Linked DNA regions of Homo sapiens: region 1 is linked to region 2. The links come from fine-mapping of genetic effects on gene expression. A gene starts in region 2. The other region holds a variant in brackets. All regions are shown on one strand. Distances are from middle to middle.

Evidence for each region.
Region 1: its variant is fine-mapped to the expression of BRSK2 in lung (GTEx, PIP above 0.99).

The regions. Positions count from the first base shown.
Region 1 is chr11:1,449,085-1,459,085 of GRCh38, forward strand. BRSK2 (BR serine/threonine kinase 2) reads left to right here. Exons shown (of 20, transcript NM_001256627.2): 13 at 692-752; 14 at 1,503-1,710; 15 at 2,287-2,335; 16 at 5,401-5,524; 17 at 7,264-7,444; 18 at 7,514-7,603. Among named protein-coding and RNA genes, the nearest start is that of MOB2, 33 kb to the right of the region's middle. RefSeq lists enhancers at 3,935-4,644, 8,896-9,458. The variant G/A (reference allele first, on the strand shown) is at 5,918.
Region 2 is chr11:1,385,648-1,395,648 of GRCh38, forward strand. It overlaps BRSK2 (BR serine/threonine kinase 2), which reads left to right and starts at 4,287. Exons shown (of 20, transcript NM_001256627.2): 1 at 4,287-4,728. The coding sequence starts at 4,638. RefSeq lists a silencer at 3,684-4,053.

The DNA.
Region 1 (10,001 bases), 63 kb after region 2:
GGAACGACGCACAGCCGTCCTGGTCCCTGCACGGGGGTGGCGGCCACACACCGGAGTCTCAGCCGGGCACGCCGGGCCAGGGCCTCCCTCCTGCTGTGTGCAGGTCTCAGGCTGAGTAGGGCAGTGGTGGGACAAGGCCCCACCGTCCCTGCCAGCAGCTGCCCCAGCCTGGCCCTGCCCAGGCCCTCCTGGTTGTGGACAAGGGAAGGGCCGGCCGCTGACCCAGGCATCCCTCACGGGCATCTAGGGACATGGAGGACCAGGCTGCAGGCCCTGTGAGAGCTCAGCCAGGGGGGGCTTGGCAGGTGGGAGGCTGGAGCCAGCACGAGGCCTGGAGCAGAAGGGGCTGCATACAGGAAGCTCCCGTCTGTCCCCTCGTCCTTCCGTCCACCCCCACGCTGGATGGTCCTTTGCCGCGGCTGTCTGATGCCGTATCCTGTGCTGTGCCTGGGCTGCTGGCATGGGGTGGCCCCCACACGTGGGCTCTGATGGGGGCCCCAGTGGGGCTGGGCACAGCCAGGCGCCCTGGGCCCTCCTGAATTGACAGGGTGTGCAGCAGGACCCAGGGCCTCGAGGCTCTTGGCCCGGGCTCCAGGCCTCCTGGAGGGTTTACCTGGGGGGAGCAGAGCCCAGCACCTGCTGCTCCACTGCCCCCTGGCTGAGCAGTGGCCCTGTACCTTGTGACCTCCAGGTCTCGGTCCATCAGCGGTGCCTCCTCAGGCCTTTCCACCAGCCCACTCAGCAGCCCCCGGGTGAGTGACCCCCCGCCCCCACCCAGCTCGGATGCACAGAGGCCCCAACCCTCCCAGTCAGCGTGTGCCAGGGTGGGGGCAGCCTCGCGGACCCTGGGAAGCAGCCCCAGGCGCCCCCCATGCCCACGCTCCTGTGGCGGCTGCTGCTCTGTGGCGCAGGCTGCTCTGCTAACTGCACGCTCTTTTGTTTTGTTTTGTTTGTTTTCTTGTGTGTCACTTCTTTTCTTTTGTGGCTAATCCTCCTGCCCATGCCTGCCTGCCTCCCCACCCTCCCGCTCCCGCCTGTTTCTTTCTGGTCCTCCTGTGCCGTGTGCATGCGGGGGACTGGGGTGCATGTGCCGCGCGGCTGCCCCCACCCCGCTCGCTCCCTGCGCCTCCCCGTAGCCTATTAGGAAGCTTGTCCTGCCCCCACCGCCCCCCGAGCCGCCCTTCGTGGCCCGCCCCCTGGCCACCTCCACGGAGCCCGAAGCTTGTGGGAGCGCCTCGAGGCCTGGACACGTCCTCCCTCTGCAGGCCGCCCTGCGGCCCGACCCCAAGACCCAGACCTTGCCGTGCAAGGCCAAGCTGACCGACAAGCCTCTGCAGGGCACCAAGTCCAACCCCTTCCCGGCCAGCACCCCAGCCCGGCCTCCCGCCACTGGCCTTTGTCCCCAGCTGGCACCACCCCTGGGCCCGCCTGCCCTGCGGGTGCCCCCCCGGCCCCCACCCGCCGGGATTGAACCAAACACCAAATCTGTCCCCACCATACAGGTGACCCCTCACCCCTCACCAAGGGGCAGTCCCCTCCCCACCCCCAAGGGGACACCTGTCCACACGCCAAAGGAGAGCCCGGCTGGCACGCCCAACCCCACGCCCCCGTCCAGCCCCAGCGTCGGAGGGGTGCCCTGGAGGGCGCGGCTCAACTCCATCAAGAACAGCTTTCTGGGCTCACCCCGCTTCCACCGCCGGAAACTGCAAGGTGAGTGTCTGCCCGGAGGCGCCAGAGTGGGGCTGGGAGAGAGCAGAGGCTGCCTTGGGGAGGGCCCCGCCCGGCAGTGCCAGACCAGTCCGAGGGGCCTGTAGCTGCAGGGGTGGCCTGGGCCTGCCCACGTCTCACTGTCCCGAAAGCGCCCAGCAGCAGCCTGTGTCCTACCTGTCGCACAGGCTGGTATCCCCTCCAGACATTCTGTGTTCCTGAGTCTACCCACTCTGTGTCCTGGGGCCAGGCACACAGCAAGGAGAGCTGGCCACCGAGGGGGCACTGCCAGTCAGGAGGCCCCATGTGTGGGGCACCAAGGGCCAGCCAGTGCTGCTGGAGAAGGCACAGCCGACTTCAGCACCAGAGGCGGGGACAGCTCCCCTTAGCCTGGGGGGCGCCACTGCCAGTGGGCCTCTAAGGTGGCCGGGAGCTGGGGTGGACCAGTGCCCCTGGGGGGGCTGTCCCAGTGTGTGTGGGTGGACTCCTGATGACCCTGACCTCGGCGCAAGGTGGCCAGGGCAGGGGAAGGATGGAGCGGTCACCACGCCTTTCCTCCTGTTCATCCTGTGTGCACAGTTCCGACGCCGGAGGAGATGTCCAACCTGACACCAGAGTCGTCCCCAGAGTAAGTGGCCCCTGCTGGAGGCCTCCTGGTACCTGACACCAGGCTGGCCGGGAGAGGGGCATGGAACCCTTCCCCTATGGCCAACGGGGTGCTCCTTCTCCACGTGGCCCCACCTCCCACTGCAGGCAGGCCCGTCTCGGCCACTGAGTCTCTGAAGTTCGAATTCCCGGCTGTGAGGGGAAGGCCAGCCAGGGGAGGAGCCCCCAGCCCTGTTGAGAAGCTTCAGGCCTTGGGAGAGCCTAGGGTTGGCTGGAGGCGAGCAGGGGGTACACTGGGCAGAGTCTCCCCAGGGCCTGAGCTCGCCAAGGGCAGAGACCGGGTCGCTCAGGTCTCAAGGAGAAAGCAGCCCGTGTTAAGAACAAAGGGGCAGCAGGCCTGGTGGGAACACGTGTGCAGGGGCGGAGCGGAGCAGCCAAGCCGAGGTCTGGCCCCGCCGCCTTTCTGAGCCGTGAGAGGTGCCACTGCAGAGACTCTACAGCGCCCAGGTGCTGAGATGCCCTGGGGGCCGCTGTGACTGGTGTCTGGACAAAGATGTCCCCAGAGAGACCCCTTCCCAGCGCCCAGGCCCTCTCCCTCCTCTCCACGATGGCCTCAGTCACTGGGCAGTGTCTCGGAGACCAGGCGACTGGCGGTGTACACATATGAGCCTGCAGCGTGACCCCAGGCCAGGCAGCGGCAGAGAGCGGCGGTCAGGCTGGAGTCACTTCACAGGAGACCCCGGGAAATGAAGATGTGGCCAGCTGTGGACTGAGTAAGACGAGAACCTTCGTCCTGCTGCTGGCTTTAAACCAGGGGCCCCTGTGGAAACTGCTCAGTGCTAAGCCCCAGGAGCAGCATCTGCAGCCTGTGCCAGGATTCCACCCAGTGGCCTTTCTGCGCCGATCAGGTGGCCCTTCCAGCTGGGTGCCCAGGTCGGAGGTGTGTAGGTATTGTCGCAAGCCCAGATGCACAGGGCTCAGCAGACTTGGGAACCTTCCGCCTAGGCCCTGACATTGCCGTTTCTGCTGCTACCAAAAGCTTTCATGAACAGACTCATAATTATCTTCCTCAGAGAAGGTGGAAAACATCAAAGCCGAGAAGGTGGCTTTGATGCCACTGTGGCTGCCTGCGCTTCTCCCCTCCCCCATCTTGAGATGGCCTGGAGGCCCTGACCCCTCTCAAGGGTCCGGCACGGATGCCTCCCACAGCCCCACCCAAGGGCCCGGCACAGACACCCCTTCCCAAGGGTCCAGCACAGATGCCTCCTACAGCTCCACCCAAGGGCCCGGCACAGATGCCTGCGACAGCCGTTCCCGAGGGTCCAGCACAGACACCTCCCACAGCCCCACCCAAGGGCCCGGCACAGATGCCTGTGACAGCCCTTATTGAGGGTCCTGCACAGACGCCTTGGACGAGGGTCCAGCACGGATGCCTCCCACAGTCCCTCTTTGGCGACAACTCGCTTGCTGGGGACCTGAGATAACCCCCAGCCCCAGCTGCTGCCAGCCCCATGTCAACCAGGCACCCCAGAGGAACAGCACCAAGGGAGGCAGCTGGCTTCAGGAAGGGATGCATGCGGTTGTCTGGGACACTCAGGGCTGATGTCCTTGAGTCTGAAGTGCTAGCTGGAAGCCCAGGCAGTTTCCAGGTTGCAGCCTCGAGGGGCGTTCTTTCCCCAGGAAGACCGAACCTGGCGGATGCACCCACCCTGTGAGGAAGGGTCCCCCGCCAGACTCAACAGGCGACTGATTTAAGTTCGTCTCATCTAAAAATAGCTTCATAGCAACACCCAGACTAGTGTCCGGCCAGGCTGTGCACTGCCCACCACGTGGGTGCTGGAGTCACAGTGCAGGCCCCTCACCCCTCGTCGGCCTGGCCTCCCTGGGCCGTCAGGCATCTTTCACACATGGGACTATTTTTGCCAAATGCTGCACCCCTGGGCCGCAAAGCAGAGAGTCACGTTTGTACCATCTGTCCTGTCTCTTCATCGGGCAGAACATCGACCATGTAGAAACTCACCTGTGCTTCCAGAACTGCCAGGCTGCTTTGTGCACTTCCTGGCTCCAGGCCCTGGCATGGGGCTGGGGTAAGGTCAGGGCCAGTGGTGGCCCTCGGAGTTTTGAACCCAGAACAGACAGCCGCCGAGACCGGCAGGACACTGAGGAGGCGTCGAGGGGCTGAGTGAGGGTTGGACCTGGTCCCCGTGCTTGTCCGGCAGGACTCCCAGGCCGCACAGTGGCCGAGGAGGCAGCTCCAGGAATGGGCAAGGGAAAGGGGAGTTGTGAGGCCGCTGGGAGGGGCCTCAGAATCAGTCGGGAGAGGGCACCACTGAGCCCCAGCCCTGCTGGCCCCTCCTCCCGGTCCCTGCCTCTGCCTCTCAGCACACCTGGTTCCACCTCCAGGCAGCAACGGCAGGGGACGCCAGCAGAGCGTGCCACCTCTGAACAGCCACCCAGGCGCGCTCTGCCTGAGTCTCGGGCTGTGCTAGAGGCGCCTCTGGCCATGGTCCTCTCACGGCTGGGCTTCCTGGCCCCCGCGCTGGTGGGTGGGGTTCGGGTGCTCTTGAGCTGGAGAGCAGAGGGCCTCTGCATGTTGGGGTGAGCCTGCCAGCAAGACAGGAGTAGCCTTCTGTGGCCTCAGAAGCGCCTCCCCACTCTCCTGTTGGAAGCGAGTTGCAGGCCCCGCCTGCTCCTGGGGGTGGGGGGCACAGCTGACTTCAGGAGCCCAGCTTGAGCCACCTCTCACAGCGGCCTTGGTGAGGGGGGGCTCACCTGTGGGGGGCTCACCTGTGGAGGGGCATCCCCAGACTTGGGAGTGGGTGGCATATGGGCCAGGGTCAGGGCGTTAGGGCTTGGAGAAAGGTTAGGGTTGGGGTTGGGGTTAGAGCCACGGTGATGGTCAGGGCATATGGGCTAGGGTTAGGGCGTTGGGGTCAGGGCCATGGGTTCTGGCTAGCACTGTGGAGACAGCCGTTTCTATCACGAAGCGATGGAAGATTCCGCCGTTCCAACCCCAGATTCGAGGGAGGCAGGGGTGTGGACGGTGCCACACCTCAATCCTCACAGCCTCTGTCTCCCACTGCCCAGGCTGGCGAAGAAGTCCTGGTTTGGGAACTTCATCAGCCTGGAGAAGGAGGAGCAGATCTTCGTGGTCATCAAAGACAAACCTCTGAGCTCCATCAAGGCTGACATCGTGCACGCCTTCCTGTCGGTGAGGCCACAGGGCGCTGGGGGAGGCGGGCAGCCCTCCCAACCCCACACGGCCCAGCCCCGAGAATCCAGCCTCCTCACGTAGACAGGACATGTCCACGCGCACAGCACGGACGTCCGCTCACCCGTGGGCCTGCCTGGCCGCCTTCACTGGACAGGCGCTCTCTCCTGCCCACCCTCGTGAGGGAGGGGTCACTGCCCATCTGGGGTGCTTGGCCTGCGGAGGGAGTCAGGGCTTTGCTCACTGGTCCCCAGCAGCCCTAGGTGTGTGCCGGACAGGCCTGGGCAGCTGGCACGTGGGGCAGAAGGAAGGCTCCAGCTGGGTGGGTCTCAGAGGGGGACATTTCCATCAGACTCGGGGAGAAGCCCTTGTGAGGCCATGGCCCTAGGGACC[G/A]GTGGGGCTCTGCTGGCCCTCAGTGGACAGCCCCAGCCCTCAGGTGTCTCAGTTTCCCTGGTCTCACCCTGCCCTCGGAGGCCGGGTGGCTCTCCACAGAGTGGTCGCGCTCGGGGTCTTGGGTGGGCTTCATTTGTCTTTGCTGGGCATCTTTGGGTTAGGAGGAGCAGAAAGGCCCTAAAAGCCTCAAATGGAGAAAGTTTATTGCCAGGACTCCAGCACCCAGTCCCATCAGGACGCCCCTTCCTTGCCGGCCCTGCCCCACCCTGTGCTGCACCCAGCGCCCAGGCATCACAGGGGCTGCCCCCCACCCGCCTCCCCCACCGCCCCCAGCCTGCCTCCCCAGGGCTGCTGTCCTGCCCTGTGCTCACCACTGCCCGGGCGCCCTCCCTGGCCCCAGGGTCTTGGCAAGATCAGGCCGTGGTTCGCTTCGGCAGCCTCTCTAGCTAGGGACTGGCCCCCACCCCACCATATGCTCTGCCCCCGGGCACTCAGGCCACTGCTGCCCTGGCTGCAGCTGAGCTTCCCTTACGCTGTGGGGACAGCTTGGAGCCCCTGCAGAAGGCTCCAGGGCCAGGAGAGCCCAGCGCTGGGCAGGGCAGGCCTCAGACTGCACTTGGACCCTGGCCTCAGGGGTCCTCAGCGTCCCCGTCCCCGTCCCCACAGGCTGCTCACTTCCTCGGCCTCCTCCCTCACCACATCCCTTCATGCTGCCCCTGGTTGCCACGGCTAACCTCAGACTCAGCCCCTCCCCATGCCGGCCCCAGTGAGGCGGCTGTGTGCCAGCCTGGGCCCTGTGCGCTGGGTGGCCCTGAGTTCTGCTTCCTGCAGCTGCCCCCTCGGTACTGTGAAGCCCACCCAGCCAGTGCCCAGCACCATAGGTCCCGCAACCAGTGGGAGTCCCAGGAAGCCCCAGCAGGAGGGCACAGCCCCAGCCCCGCCCTTGCACCTCCCTCTCAGTGGCAGCTCCCAGACCCCCCACCTCCCACTCAGCTCCACCCTGGACCCCCACCTCAGGCTGCAGGGGTCACCTTCCACCTCCATCTTTGCCCTTAAGGCTCCTCTGTAAGGTCCTGGTCATCCTGTGCTGTGGCTGCCTGAGAAAAGCCCGGCAGGGGCTTAGCTGTGCCCGCTAAGTGGACCAAAGCTTTGGAGGGTGGGGGCTGGAAACGCCCCTCCCCCTGCTCCAGCCGTCTCCAACCGCACTGTGCCCCTCACGGAAGCAGAGGTGCCTGGGTGCTCACAATGTGTGCACGGTGGGGCTGGCTCGCCCCAGGGCTGCCTCCCCAGAGGGCCAGGGTGGGACCTGCCAGGCCAGCCACGCTCACGCTGCTCTCTCTCCACAGATTCCCAGTCTCAGCCACAGCGTCATCTCCCAAACGAGCTTCCGGGCCGAGTACAAGGCCACGGGGGGGCCAGCCGTGTTCCAGAAGCCGGTCAAGTTCCAGGTTGATATCACCTACACGGAGGGTGGGGAGGCGCAGAAGGAGAACGGCATCTACTCCGTCACCTTCACCCTGCTCTCAGGTGAGCTGGCGCCCCCAGGGCGGCTCCGGGCCCAGGCCCGTCCAGGGCATAACCCCCTGTCTCCCCTAGGCCCCAGCCGTCGCTTCAAGAGGGTGGTGGAGACCATCCAGGCCCAGCTGCTGAGCACACACGACCCGCCTGCGGCCCAGCACTTGTCAGGTGAGGCGGGCTCAGCTCCGGCCAACCTGCGGCCTGCGAGTGGGGCGTGGCCAGCTGGTGCTGCGCGGACGGGAGGCGTGAGGACCCGGGCGCAGCCTCCTGGCCCCTCTTGACGGACGCCCCCACCTCCCTGCCCCGAGCTGTGGCTGCACCCCTCAGGGAGCAGAGCCCCTCCCTGGCCTGGCGGGACCACCCGCCTCGCCTCTGCACGCCAGGGACATAGGGCGCAGCCGCACCACACTGAAAGGCGCCTCTTGTCCACCGTAGAACCCCCCCCACCAGCGCCAGGACTAAGCTGGGGTGCTGGGCTTAAGGGCCAGAAGGTGGCCACCAGCTACGAGAGTAGCCTCTGACGCTGGCAGGTAAGGCGCCCGGCCTGTGCTGGGGCGGGGAGGGGCTGCGGGCAGGTCCTCGGCGGAGCCAGGCTGGCCCTGAGCAGGGCCCTCCATGCCCACCCACAGGTCTCGGCCCTGGACAGGCCAAGCATGCCCCGGGCGGCCCATCTGCTAGGGCAGCCTGCACAGGACCTGGGAGAGCAGTGACAAGGCCCTGCCCTCGGGACTCCCCGCCATGGCACCCTAGGAGGGCCGCGGGCTGCCTGACGGGCTGTGACTTCTCATCTCTCCATACTTCCTGACAGCCCAGGGTCATGCCTCCAGCAGGGCAGAGGGGCTTGAGCCCAGCCAGAGCGGGGGCTTCACCACAGCCTGATGGGCTCACACAGGGGAGGGTTGCCCCAGCCTGGAACCACCAGGGTCTAGGACCCGAGGGTCCGTGCCACTCGGCATACGGCAGGGAGGGCTCCCCCCACTCCCCTGGGCCCATGTGTGGTGGGGGCAGGGCGGAGCACTGGGCACATGCATGGGCCTGGTCTGTCAGCAAGGGGGTGTGGGTGTGCCTCTGAACGCTGGTACGGCGTGGGGGCGCTGGGCGTCGTGGGGGAGCACCCGGCTGGACCCTGGGGGTCCCCTCTCCCAGCCTGCATCTCAGCAGCTCCGTGGCATGCTAGGGTCACCTCCTGTGTTTCCATGTGGGGTCCTGGAAGCCAAAGAGGGCCCCACTGCCCCTCCCCATGACATCCTCATTCCATCATCATGCCATCACCTGTGGGAGCCCCCCCAGAGTGTGCTTCACCTTGCTGCGGGCTGGGGGCTGAGGTCCCCAACAGCCCTGGCCCTAACCGAAGCCCCAGTGGGTGGAGGAGTAGCCCCCTTCTCCTGATTTTGGGAGCCAGGCTGGCACAGCGGGTAAGGAGGAGCAGGGTTCCAGGTGCTCGGCCCCGCAGGTACACGTGGCGCTTCCCTACAGCGGAGGCCATGCCGTCGGCCGGCAGCAGCCTCTGGCTCTCTGAGCCTTGAAAGCCTTCATCTTAGGAAGGGAAACCGAGGCCAGGGAACGACAGGGCAGCCACCTAGGCCAGGGATGGACAGGGCTTGTCTGGTAGGGCAAGCAGAAACGGGCCCCGGGGTACTGCCCAGGGTGTCCCCGCACCTGAGCAGCCATCTGGGTGCCTCAGTCGAGCGCTCCTGCGTGGGCTGTAGGCAAAGCTCCCCCAGCCTGGCCCCTTAAAGTGTGGTACCGCCTGTCAGCACGCAGCACTCCCCTGGAGCCAACTCCAAGCCCCTCTCCATTCCTGCCCCGGACCCTGACCTCAGTGGAGCCCACTGCAGAGGCTCTTGGGGGTCTATTCTGGGCCCCATCTATCTCCCTGTGGACTTGGGGAGCCCAGCCTATCCCCGTGATCTCGCTACGCCCAGCCCTTCCCAGCCCTGCCCCCCTCCCACACTGGATGCTTTTGTCCAGTGAGCCCAGCTCCAAGGATGTGTGGAAGGTGGCTAGCCAGCAGGGGGCCTCCTCAGACACTGCCCACCCCCCCAGAGACTGCGGCCGAGGGAGGGGAGGCTGAGAGCCCCCAGTGAGCAGGCACAGGCAGACCAGGGCGTGTGTCCACCCTGTGCAGGCGCCAGTGAGGGCCTTGAGGGAGTAGCCCCTCCCAGGGCCTTGCTCCCACCCCAGTCCTGGACTGGCAGCACCAACATCCCCAGGCCCAGCAGTAGGGAAGAGGGCCGAGGAAGAGGGTGCCTGCCTTGAGTTGAAGGGCAGCCGGAAGCCACAGGGCCCTGGAGCTGCTGAGTGGCACAGTGAGGATGCAGGCCACGGCCAGGGCAGAGTTGTCAGCCCAGGGGAGGGGCTAGGCCCACCCAGGGCACCGGCCATATCCAGGCTCAGGCTCAGGCTGCTGGAGGTCCGGCTGCTGCCCAGGTGGCTCCGCCTTGTTCCCTGCCTCCGCAGCCCCGCCTCACTCCAGGCCCTGCCCCTGCACTGCCCCTTATAAGCCCCGCCCCCTCTGGCTCTGGCCCCCCCAGTATTCCCCACCCATGCCTCTGGGGCCCTACCC
Region 2 (10,001 bases):
TGCTGCCCAGGCTGGTCTCAAATTCCTGGGCTCAAGCTATCCTCCCACCTTGGCCTTCCAAAGTGCTGGCAGTACAAGCATGAGCCACTGCACCTGGCAGCTTGTCAATTTCTAAAAAAAAAAAAAAAAAAAAAGAGAAAATTTAAAAAATCAAATTAAAATTAAATCGATTACTTGGGCCTTGTTAAGTCTCACTTAATATACTGAGAGATGTATAATCGTTTTTTGTGTACAGATCTCATGCAAATTCTGATAAATTTACCCCTAGTATTTCGTGGTTTTTAAATTCTCTTTGTAAGTGGTACTGTTTTCATAATTTCAACTTCTAATTGATGGTTAGCACACAAATAGAATTGACCTTTTTTTGGCTTTGTACCCTGTGGCTTTGGTAAACTTACTTATTCGTTTTAGTACCAGTTTGTAGCTTAGAATTTTCTGCAGACAATAATGTTATCTTCTTGTTTTACTTTCTGACATGGAGTTTTGCTCTTGTTGCCCAGGCTGGAGTGCAATGGCATGATCTCGGCTCACTGCAAACTCTGCCTCGTGGGTTCAAGCGATTCTCCTGCCTGAGCCTCCTGAGTAGCTGGGATTACAGGTGCCCATCACCAAACCCAGCTAATTTTTGTATTTTTAGTAGAGACAGGGTTTCACCAGGTTGGCCAGGCTGGTCTCGAACTCCTGACCTCAGGTGATCTGCCCGCCTCAGCCTCCCAAAGTGCTGGGATTACAGACGTGAGCCACCGTGCCCGGCCATTAATGTTATCTTCTAATAAAGATCACCTAAAATTTCCTTTTTGGCTGGGCACGGTGGCTCACGCCTGTAATCCCAGCACTTTGGGAGGCCGAGGCGGGTGGATCATGAGGTCAGGAGATCGAGACCATCCTGGCTAACACGGTGAAACCCCGCCTCTACTAAAAATAAAAAAAAATTAGCCGGGCGTGGTGGCGGGCACCTGTAGTCCCAGCTACTTGGGAGGCTGAGGCAGGAGAATGACGTGAACCCGGGAGGCGGAGCTTGCAGTCAGCCGAGATCGGGCCATTGCACTCCAGCCTGGGCGACAGAGCAAGACTCCATCTCAAAAAAAAAAAAAAAATAATAATAATAATAAAAAATTTCCTTTTCAACTGGTACAAATTTTGTCTTCCTTGCCTCATTACTTCGGCATGTACTCTGGCACGACACTGAAATAAATGATGATGATGGACAACCTTGCCCCATCCCTGACCCAAGGAAAAGCTTTCAGTTTCTCACCACTAAGCCTGACATTAGCTGTGGGTTTTTGTAGTTTCCCTTTGTTGGGTTGGGAGTGCAGGAGCAGAATAGATTCGAATCTTCTCCTCCTGGTTTACTGAGAGCCTTTGTCGTGAATGAGTGCTGAATTTTGTTGAATGCTTTCCTTGCATCTGTGGAAATGACCGTGTGGTTTTTCTGTGTTGGTCTGCTAATAGTGAATGACAATTGATTTTGAAATGTTAAACTAACTTTGCATTCCCGGGTACGCTCCACAAGGTCATATGTGTTCTCTTTATATATTGCTGGAATTGATTTGATGTTTTGTTAAGGGATTTTTGTGTCTAGGCTCCTGAGTGGACTTTAATTTTCTTGTCATGTCCTTGCATGGTTTTGGCACCAGGGTGATGACAGTTTCACAGAGGAGCTGGGACATGGCCCGTCTTCCTCTGTGTCCTGGAAGTGTCTGTGTAGCGGGGTGCTTTTCCTCCATTAGTGTTTGGTGGGCTCCACTGGTGAGTCTTGGCCTGGACGTCTTTGTGAGACTGGGCCCTTTCCTAACTCCGGCAACAGACCTTCGTGCTCGAGAGCCCTGGCTCCTTTGGGGCTCCTGCTCCCACCTTACACGCGACAGAGGGGGACCGAGGGCTGTGGCATCACAGTCGTGGGCATCTACTGGCTGGCCACACCCTGGTACACCCTCTCCTGGGGCACCCCAGTACCAGGCCCGCTGGAAGGAAGGGCAGTCATCCTGTTGATCCCCACAAAGATGGCAGCAGGGAGGGCGCGGCGTGCTATGGAGAAGGCGTTGAGTCTGGGGTTTTGTGCAGCACCTTCAAGAGGGGACAGCAGGGCCAAGGGAGGCTGGGAGGGCGATTTGAGGATAGGCACTCAAGAGGCTGAAGGCTGACTAGCCTCTTGCGCCCGGAGGACAGGCAGGGAGCCAGAAGAGAGGCCCCAGACTGAGCCCCAGAGGCCACCAATGGCATAGGCTGCTCAGACACAGACAGGGAAGAAAAGGCCTCAGGGCTGCAGTGAGGGTTGGGAGAGGGATGCAGGCTGGCAAGGAGGTGGGAAGGAAGAAAGCAAGAATTTTGGCCACTGGAGTAGCCGGATGCAAACGGTCAATAGGGCAAAATGCTGCTGAGGATGTCACAAAGGTGCGTCTGACTCTGCTGCAGCCTGGGAGGCCAGGTGACCATGGCAGCAGAGAGAGGGCATCTCAGGTCAAGTGCCCCTGCCCTCTGGCTGTGGCCTGACGCCCTCTCCTGGTCTCCTGCACACCCTCGGCCTCTGTTGGCACCTGGACCAGACCACTCCCAGTCAGCCTCCAGCCAGACCTCACTGCTTGACAGTTTCTCCAGCTGGAGGTCCCAGTCTACATTCAGCTAAAAATGTCTGCTGTCCCCACTCACAGCAGCAGCAGCGGGGGAAAGGGGAGTGCCCTCTGCCTCTGTCCCATGCTCTCAGCCCCCCTCCCCTGCCCCCACTGGTGGGGCCCTGATTGCTCATGCTCAGAGGCCCCAGAATTGGGTAGGGAGGACCCTTAGTCCACAGCATTTGAAGGGAAGCAGGGCGGGCGGGTGCAGGCCGAGAGTGGACAGGTGCTTTGGGGCCCACTCCCCTCCCCAGCTGGAAATACAGACAGCCCAAAGAGCAGGAGGGCGCACTGGGAAGACCCCGCAGTTTCCTGAGCTCATACGGGCTTACCAGCGTGGGGAGCGGACCACGGTCAGCAGCAGTGTGTGGCAGAGCCCGCAGGGGAAACGTTGCCCGCAGACCATACACGGGCAAGATCTGGGACCCCCACTTCTGCAGCGTTCCGGGTCTCCCTCACCTCTCCCCTCCCACCACCTTCTGCAGCACGGGCTTAAGGAAATACCAGTGTTTTTCTGCAAAGAAACAGAGGGTCCGTCCAGGTCTGGCTGCCTCTTCGGCTGCCTGTGTTTAGACCTCCAAAGGCTGCTCCCGGCAACCCCTGCCCAGCTGCTCAACCTGAAAGAGGGGTCGGTAGCAAGGGCCGGGAGGCGCCAGGGCGCTGCGGCCGGATCCCAGGTGAGTTCCTTGACTCCGCGCCGCGCAGGTCACTGTGGCATAACTGGGAAAACCGCCGCTTCTCCCTCGGGAGCGGAGGCGGAGGGCCACGTCCTCCCTGGGGGTGCACAATCTCTGCTTGGACAACGCCCGCGTGCAGTAGCCCCACAGACTCCCATGCAGCCCCCCCGCCACGTGTGCCGCATCCGCGCCCTGCATGCAACACCCGCCCCCTCCAGCGCAGCATGCCCCTCGCTGGCGTGCAGCACCCCCCATGTGTGCAGCACCCCTGCCCCGAATACAGCACCTCTCCCCAGTACAGCACTCCCGCCCCGCATGCAACACTCGCCCCCCTCCAGGGCAGCATCCCCATCCCCCGCGCGTGCAGCACCCCCTCGAGGGGCGGGAAACTCTTTGGGACACCCGGGGTCACGCCCTGCAGGGTAAAACCCCCGTCCAGGGCAGCCATCTGCACCCCCTCGCCATGGGCCCACTGCCTGCTCCGTCCCGGGATGCGCCTTAATGGCGGGTCGGGCGGCAGCGGGAGCTCTGCTGCCTGGTGGGACCGGACGTGGCAGCCGGCGGGCTGGAGGCTCCCAGGTCCCGGCCTCGCCCTGGCCTCGCCTCGCCCCCTAGAGTCTCCCCGAGCGCTCGTAGCGGCGGGGCGGGGTGGGGAGGCGCTGATTGGCCGGCGCGGGCACCGCTTGCCGCCGCCACGGCATCCCGCTGCGTTCGTACAGGCTCGTGTCGACTCGGCTCCGTTGCGCGGCCCGGCTCGGCTCCCCTCAGCTGCGCTCGACTCCGCTGTTCGGCTCGGCTGTTCGGCTTGGCTACAGGGCTCGGCTGTTCGGCTTGGCTACATGGCTCGGCTGCGCGGCTCGGCTCTGTTCGGCTCGGCTCGGCTGCTGGGCTCGGCTGTTCGGCTCAGCTGCGCGGCTCGGCTCGTCTCGGCTCTGTTCGGCTCGGCTCGGCTGCTGGGCTCGGCTGTTCGGCTCAGCTGCACGGCTCGGCTCGGCTCGGCTCGGCTCGGCTGCGCGGCCGCTGACGGGCGTGCGCTGGGGGCGCGGGGCGCGGGGCGCGGGCCTCGGCGGCGGCGGCGGCGGCGGCGGCGGAAGCCAGGTGCCCCCGCCCGCCCTGTCCTCTCGACGAGGCGGAGGCGTCGCCGCGGGCCAGGCCTCGGACTGCCGCGTCGGAGTGGACGCGGGGGGCGGCGGCGCGGGCGGACGCGGGCGGCGCGAAGCAGCGGGGCCCGCGGGGGCGCCCCGGCCGGGTCGGCGCGGACGGCACTCGGCGGACGCGGGCGGACGCTGGGCGGCCCCTCCCTGCCCGCGCGCCCGGGCGCCCCTGGCCGGCGCCGGGCCCCAGAGCGATGACATCGACGGGGAAGGACGGCGGCGCGCAGCACGCGCAGTATGTTGGGCCCTACCGGCTGGAGAAGACGCTGGGCAAGGGGCAGACAGGTGCGTGCGGCCGGGGCGGGGACCGGGGCCGGGGAGGCCGCGCTGGCAGCGCGCTGGGTGGGGGGCGCCCGAGGGAGGCCCCGGCCGCGAAGCCGCAGGCCCGGCCCGGGCCCCGGCCGCGAACAATGGGCGGCCCGTGCGCCCCCGTCCGCTCGTGCGCCCCGGTTCCGCCGCGGATCCCGCAGGCCGCTTGGCTGCGGTCGGCCGGGCGCGGCCCAAGGACACGCGGCGCGGCGCGGGGCGCGCAGGCGGACAGGGGCGCACGGGACGGCGCCCCTCGGGCCCCGCTGCAGGTGCGCGGCCCGGGCCGCATTGTGCGCCCCAGCGACCGGGCCCATTGTGCCGCGGGAGGAGGGGGCCGCGCGGGCGCCCATCTGCCGTCTGCCGCGGCCGCGCTAATAGGCGTGCTGCCCGAGCAGCTGCGCCCCCGGCGGGACTCCCACCTCCGCGCGCCGGCCACCGGGGCCTCCGGGCAGGCCCGATCTCCCTCCGCGGTGGGGGCGGGAGAGTGCGGGGACCTGCAGAGGGCTGGACAGCGCCTTGCGCTGCTCCGGCTCGGGCTCGGGCGGGCGGAGCGTCTGTGACCTGCATTCCCACGGGGCAGGGAGAGGCCATTGGTGCTGGGACCAGAAGTGCGTGGGACCTGACCCGTGGAGCAGCCCCGCGGCCTGCCGGTGGAGGGGGCTTCCCGGTGGGGCCTGGCTGTCATTCTAGGGAACAGGCCGGGTCCCTGCGGGGCCGAACCCAGGCCAGAGGCAACCCAGCTACCCTCGCATGTGGCCAACTCTCCCCGGCCCGCTGGGTTTGGCTAGCCCTTCATCTGGTCAGGCACATTCACAGAGTCGCCTTTGTGGAGGCTGGGGCTCAGCCATTTTCTTTCTTCTCTCAGGACCGGCCTGTCTCTTGGTGTCCCCGAGGTCCCACGGCACTGCCTCTCCCTTCCAATCCGAGAAGTTCCTTAGACCCGGGCGGGCAGGGGTGGAGGGAAGGAGGAGGAGAGCGCTGGTGCAGGGTGGAGGCTCAGCCCCTCACGGCTGCACAGAGGAGGAGCTGGGAGGTGGCGTTGGGGAAAGAAAGTGGGCCAGGCCCAGGCTCTTGGGGGAGGGCCGTGGCTGTGATGTAACTACGGCAGAGCTGCAGGAAGGGGTTTAGACTGAGGGGTTCAGGGGAGCTGCCTCACCTTGGGTGCACAGCCTTCCGCCACCCGCCACGGCACGGAAGGGCCCCTGGCCACAGGGCAGGACCTGGGCAGGTGGGGTGGTGCAGCCTGGGTTGGAGAAGGAGGTGGCATTCAGCCCATGTCACCTGAGTTCAAAATTCTCGTCTTTCCCGGAAAGAAAAACTAGTGTGTGAAATCCGTGGTGAAGGAGGGGCCCAGGGCAGCAGGATGCAGGAGTCAGTGAGATAATCCAATTACGGTCCCAATAAAATGTTATTATAAGGAAACATCTGCGTGTAAATGAAGACACGATGAGTTATGTGCTGTGCGCGGCCTCGGTGGGTAGGGGCTGGTCTCCACTCTTCATGGCATTCTGCTGGCGGCAGTTAATTACGGGAGGTTTCCACTGTAATTAACAGTAATGAATACAAAAGGATGGGCTGTGTGTGTCTACAACGTGCTGAGAGAGATATTTAGAAAACAGCTCGAGGGGGGGCACAAAGCGGCCCCTCTCTCCCGAGTTATGACGGGCAGAGCGCAAGCGTGTCACCGGGAGGGCCCTGGAGAAGGCCACCATTTCTGTGCGTCTTCTGTTGCTGCTGCTGAAGGGTCACCAGGAGTTGGGTGGACATGGGGCCTGGAGTGTGTGTGCTGGGCCACTTGGCACCAGATGCCAGGAGAGCTGCCAGGTCCCAAGCTCAAGAGGGAGATAGGCTTCCTGCCAGGAGACCTCCGTGGGAGAACGGGAGGCTGGGCTTCTGGCCGCCACCACCCGAGGACGATCTGATCCTGCCGTTGAGAACGCTTCTCCTTCCAGGGACCTGGCCACAGGGGAGCTGTGGAGGCCTTGCTTGGGGGGCCATTGGTGTGGACGCGACTCCAGCCCCTTCCCCGTGTCTGTGGCTGGCAGCTTTGTTTGGCCCTCTCTGTTCATCTCTCTCAGCCTGAGACCTTGGAAGGAGGAGCTGCTCGACTTGAGGTGGCCACTGAGAGGGAGGTGGTCAGTGGCAGTGGCAGTGAGCCTTGTGGTGCCACGAGAGCCCTTCCACCCGGCTGACCCAAGCTGGGGCCTGCTGGACGGTGGGCCAAAGATGTGGTCCGAAACCTGCCCTTGGGGAGTCTGGCCGTGTGGGGAGGGGAGACCACGCAGCACCCCCACCGGGGCCTGGAGGACGCCCTTCTAGACGCCGCAGGGTCCGGTCGGCTGTCTTCTTCTGCCTTTCAGCGTGAGCGCTGCATGGTCTCACCTGTACGGCACCTCCCTGTCTTGTTGGGTCTGTGCGTCCTGCAGGGCCAGTGTGGCTGTAGGGTCGTCCTTCTGCATGGGGCGTCCTCTGCACAGCTCCCCTCGGTGGCTGTGGGGGTTGCCTTCAGTGGTCTCACTGCCGGTGCCAGGCACCAGGTGAAGCCGTCAGAGCACTGAGCATCTGTGGAAGCCTCCTCGCCGGCTGCTTGGTGGTTTCTGGCCAAGACTTAGGGGGATGTAGGCTGGGGTTGGGGTGGGAACCCACCTGCAAAGGTGCTGCCTTAGCTTTTCTTGGGGCTGAGAAAGGCTTGTGTAGCCTCATCTGAGCTTGACCCCTGCAGAGATGCCGAGACACAGTCCCTGCCAGCAAGGGCAACCATGGAGGTTGGAGGGCGCAGACACTCCGAGTTGGAGCATGCAGGTCCAGGAGGGTGTGTGGCACGGGCTGGGTGGCTTTTGTCCCTGCGCGCCTTTGTCCCTGTGCCCCATCAGTACGTGGAGCAGGGCACCTTCTTGCCCAAACCTCGGCTTAGCTCCTGAAATCTGGGAGGCCTGGGAGGGCCCTGTGGGAGGAGCTGGAGAACCTCGGGCCCTTGGAGCTGTTCTTGGGGGCAGGCGGGTGGGCTGCATGGGACGATGAGGGGCCTGCCTTCGGGAATCCTCTGTCTGGGGGGCGGGAGAAAGGAATAATGGCCGCGATAGGGCTCCCTGCGAGGGAACGAAGGAGCTAGGATGAGGGGCTGCCCTGCAGCTCACCTGGCAGTGTTCACCTGCTGTGGCGTGGGGGAGGGACCTAGGCTGCCAGGGACCTGGGGCCGCCCCTCCATGTTCTCAATGGCCTTTAGGAAGGTTGAGCCCTGGTGGCTGCCAGGGTGGAGAGGGGTCCTGGGATGGGAGGAGTCATTGAAGATGGAACAGGTGAGGGGAGGGAGAGCCTGTGCCTGGGAGACCCTGGGGGTGACCCCAGGCCCAGAAGCTGGAGGCAGATGTGGAGGGGAAGGAAGCTGGTCTGAGATGGGGTCTGTTTAGAAAGTTGAGCAGGACGGGCAGCGATGGGCTGTGGTGTGCAGGTCCCTGGAGATGGGCCATGGAGATGGGTCCTGGAGATGGGTCCTGGAGATGGGCCCCTGGAGATGGGCCATGGAGATGGGTCCTGGAGATGGGTCCTGGAGATGGGTCCTGGAGATGGGTCCTGGAGATGGGCCATGGAGATGGGTCCCTGGAGATGGGCCCCTGGAGATGGGCCATGGAGATGGGTCCTGGAGATGGGTCCTGGAGATGGGTCCTGGAGATGGGCCATGGAGATGGGTCCCTGGAGATGGGCCATGGAGATGGGTCCTGGAGATGGGTCCTGGAGATGGGCCATGGAGATGGGCCATGGAGATGGGTCCTGGAGATGGGCCCCTGGAGATGGGCCATGGAGATGGGTCCTGGAGATGGGCCCCTGGAGATGGGCCATGGAGATGGGTCCTGGAGATGGGTCCTGGAGATGGGTCCTGGAGATGGGCCATGGAGATGGGCCCCTGGAGATGGGCCCCTGGAGATGGGCCATGGAGATGGGTCCTGGAGATGGGTCCTGGAGATGGGCCATGGAGATGGGCCATGGAGATGGGTCCTGGAGATGGGCCCCTGGAGATGGGCCATGGAGATGGGTCCTGGAGATGGGTCCTGGAGATGGGCCATGGAGATGGGTCCTGGAGATGGGCCATGGAGATGGGTCCTGGAGATGGGTCCTGGAGATGGGCCCCTGGAGATGGGCCATGGAGATGGGTCCTGGAGATGGGTCCTGGAGATGGGCCATGGAGATGGGTCCTGGAGATGGGCCATGGAGATGGGTCCTGGAGATGGGTCCTGGAGATGGGCCATGGAGATGGGTCCTGGAGATGGGCCCCTGGAGATGGGTCCTGGAGATGGGTCCTGGAGATGGGTCCCTGGAGATGGGCCATGGAGATGGGTCCTGGAGATGGGTCCTGGAGATGGGCCCCTGGAGATGGGCCATGGAGATGGGTCCTGGAGATGGGTCCTGGAGATGGGCCATGGAGATGGGTCCTGGAGATGGGTCCTGGAGATGGGCCCCTGGAGATGGGCCATGGAGATGGGTCCTGGAGATGGGTCCTGGAGATGGGCCATGGAGATGGGTCCTGGAGATGGGTCCTGGAGATGGGTCCTGGAGATGGGCCCCTGGAGATGGGCCATGGAGATGGGTCCTGGAGATGGGCCCCTGGAGATGGGCTGTGCAGGGCTGAGCCCGGAGAGCGCATGGGTAGACAGGACCCGGCAGCCTCCCCAGCCATGAAGGTGAAGGTGGACTCAGCGTGGGGTGTCTGCTGCGAGACCCCAGGAATTCTGTGGCCTTCCCCACATCAGGCCCTGGCCATCTGACCCCAGCTGTTTTGTCAGGGCAGCAGCAGCCTGGGGCTGGACTGAACCCCTCATCTGCCCTGCACGGGGTTTCTACAAGCTGAGGTCTCAGGACGCTGTTCTCAGGGGCGCCGTGCACAGAGCCCGGGGAGCCAGCATGGTGGGTAGCCCTCCCATCTGAAGTCTCCCTGGCCCCCTGAAGTCCCTGGAAAGGCCCATTTGGTGTCGCTGGGCGCCATGTCAGTGACTGCGCCAGGGTGGAGGCCTCAAGATGCTGCCCCTGGCGTCTTCCTGCCCTGCATGCCCTCCACAGGGAGCCCCCTTTCCAGCTGAGAGCTGGCCTTGAGTGTCCCTGTCAGGGCCCTTGGCACAGAGGTTCCGGGTGGTGAGGACGGCAGTTCCCCTAGGCGGGGGCGGGAGGGTCGTTGGAGGCGGGAGCCCTAGGCCCTTGTCCTGTCCCCACCCACTGTGGCCCTGGGCACCTCAGGTGTGTGTGTCCCTGTTGAC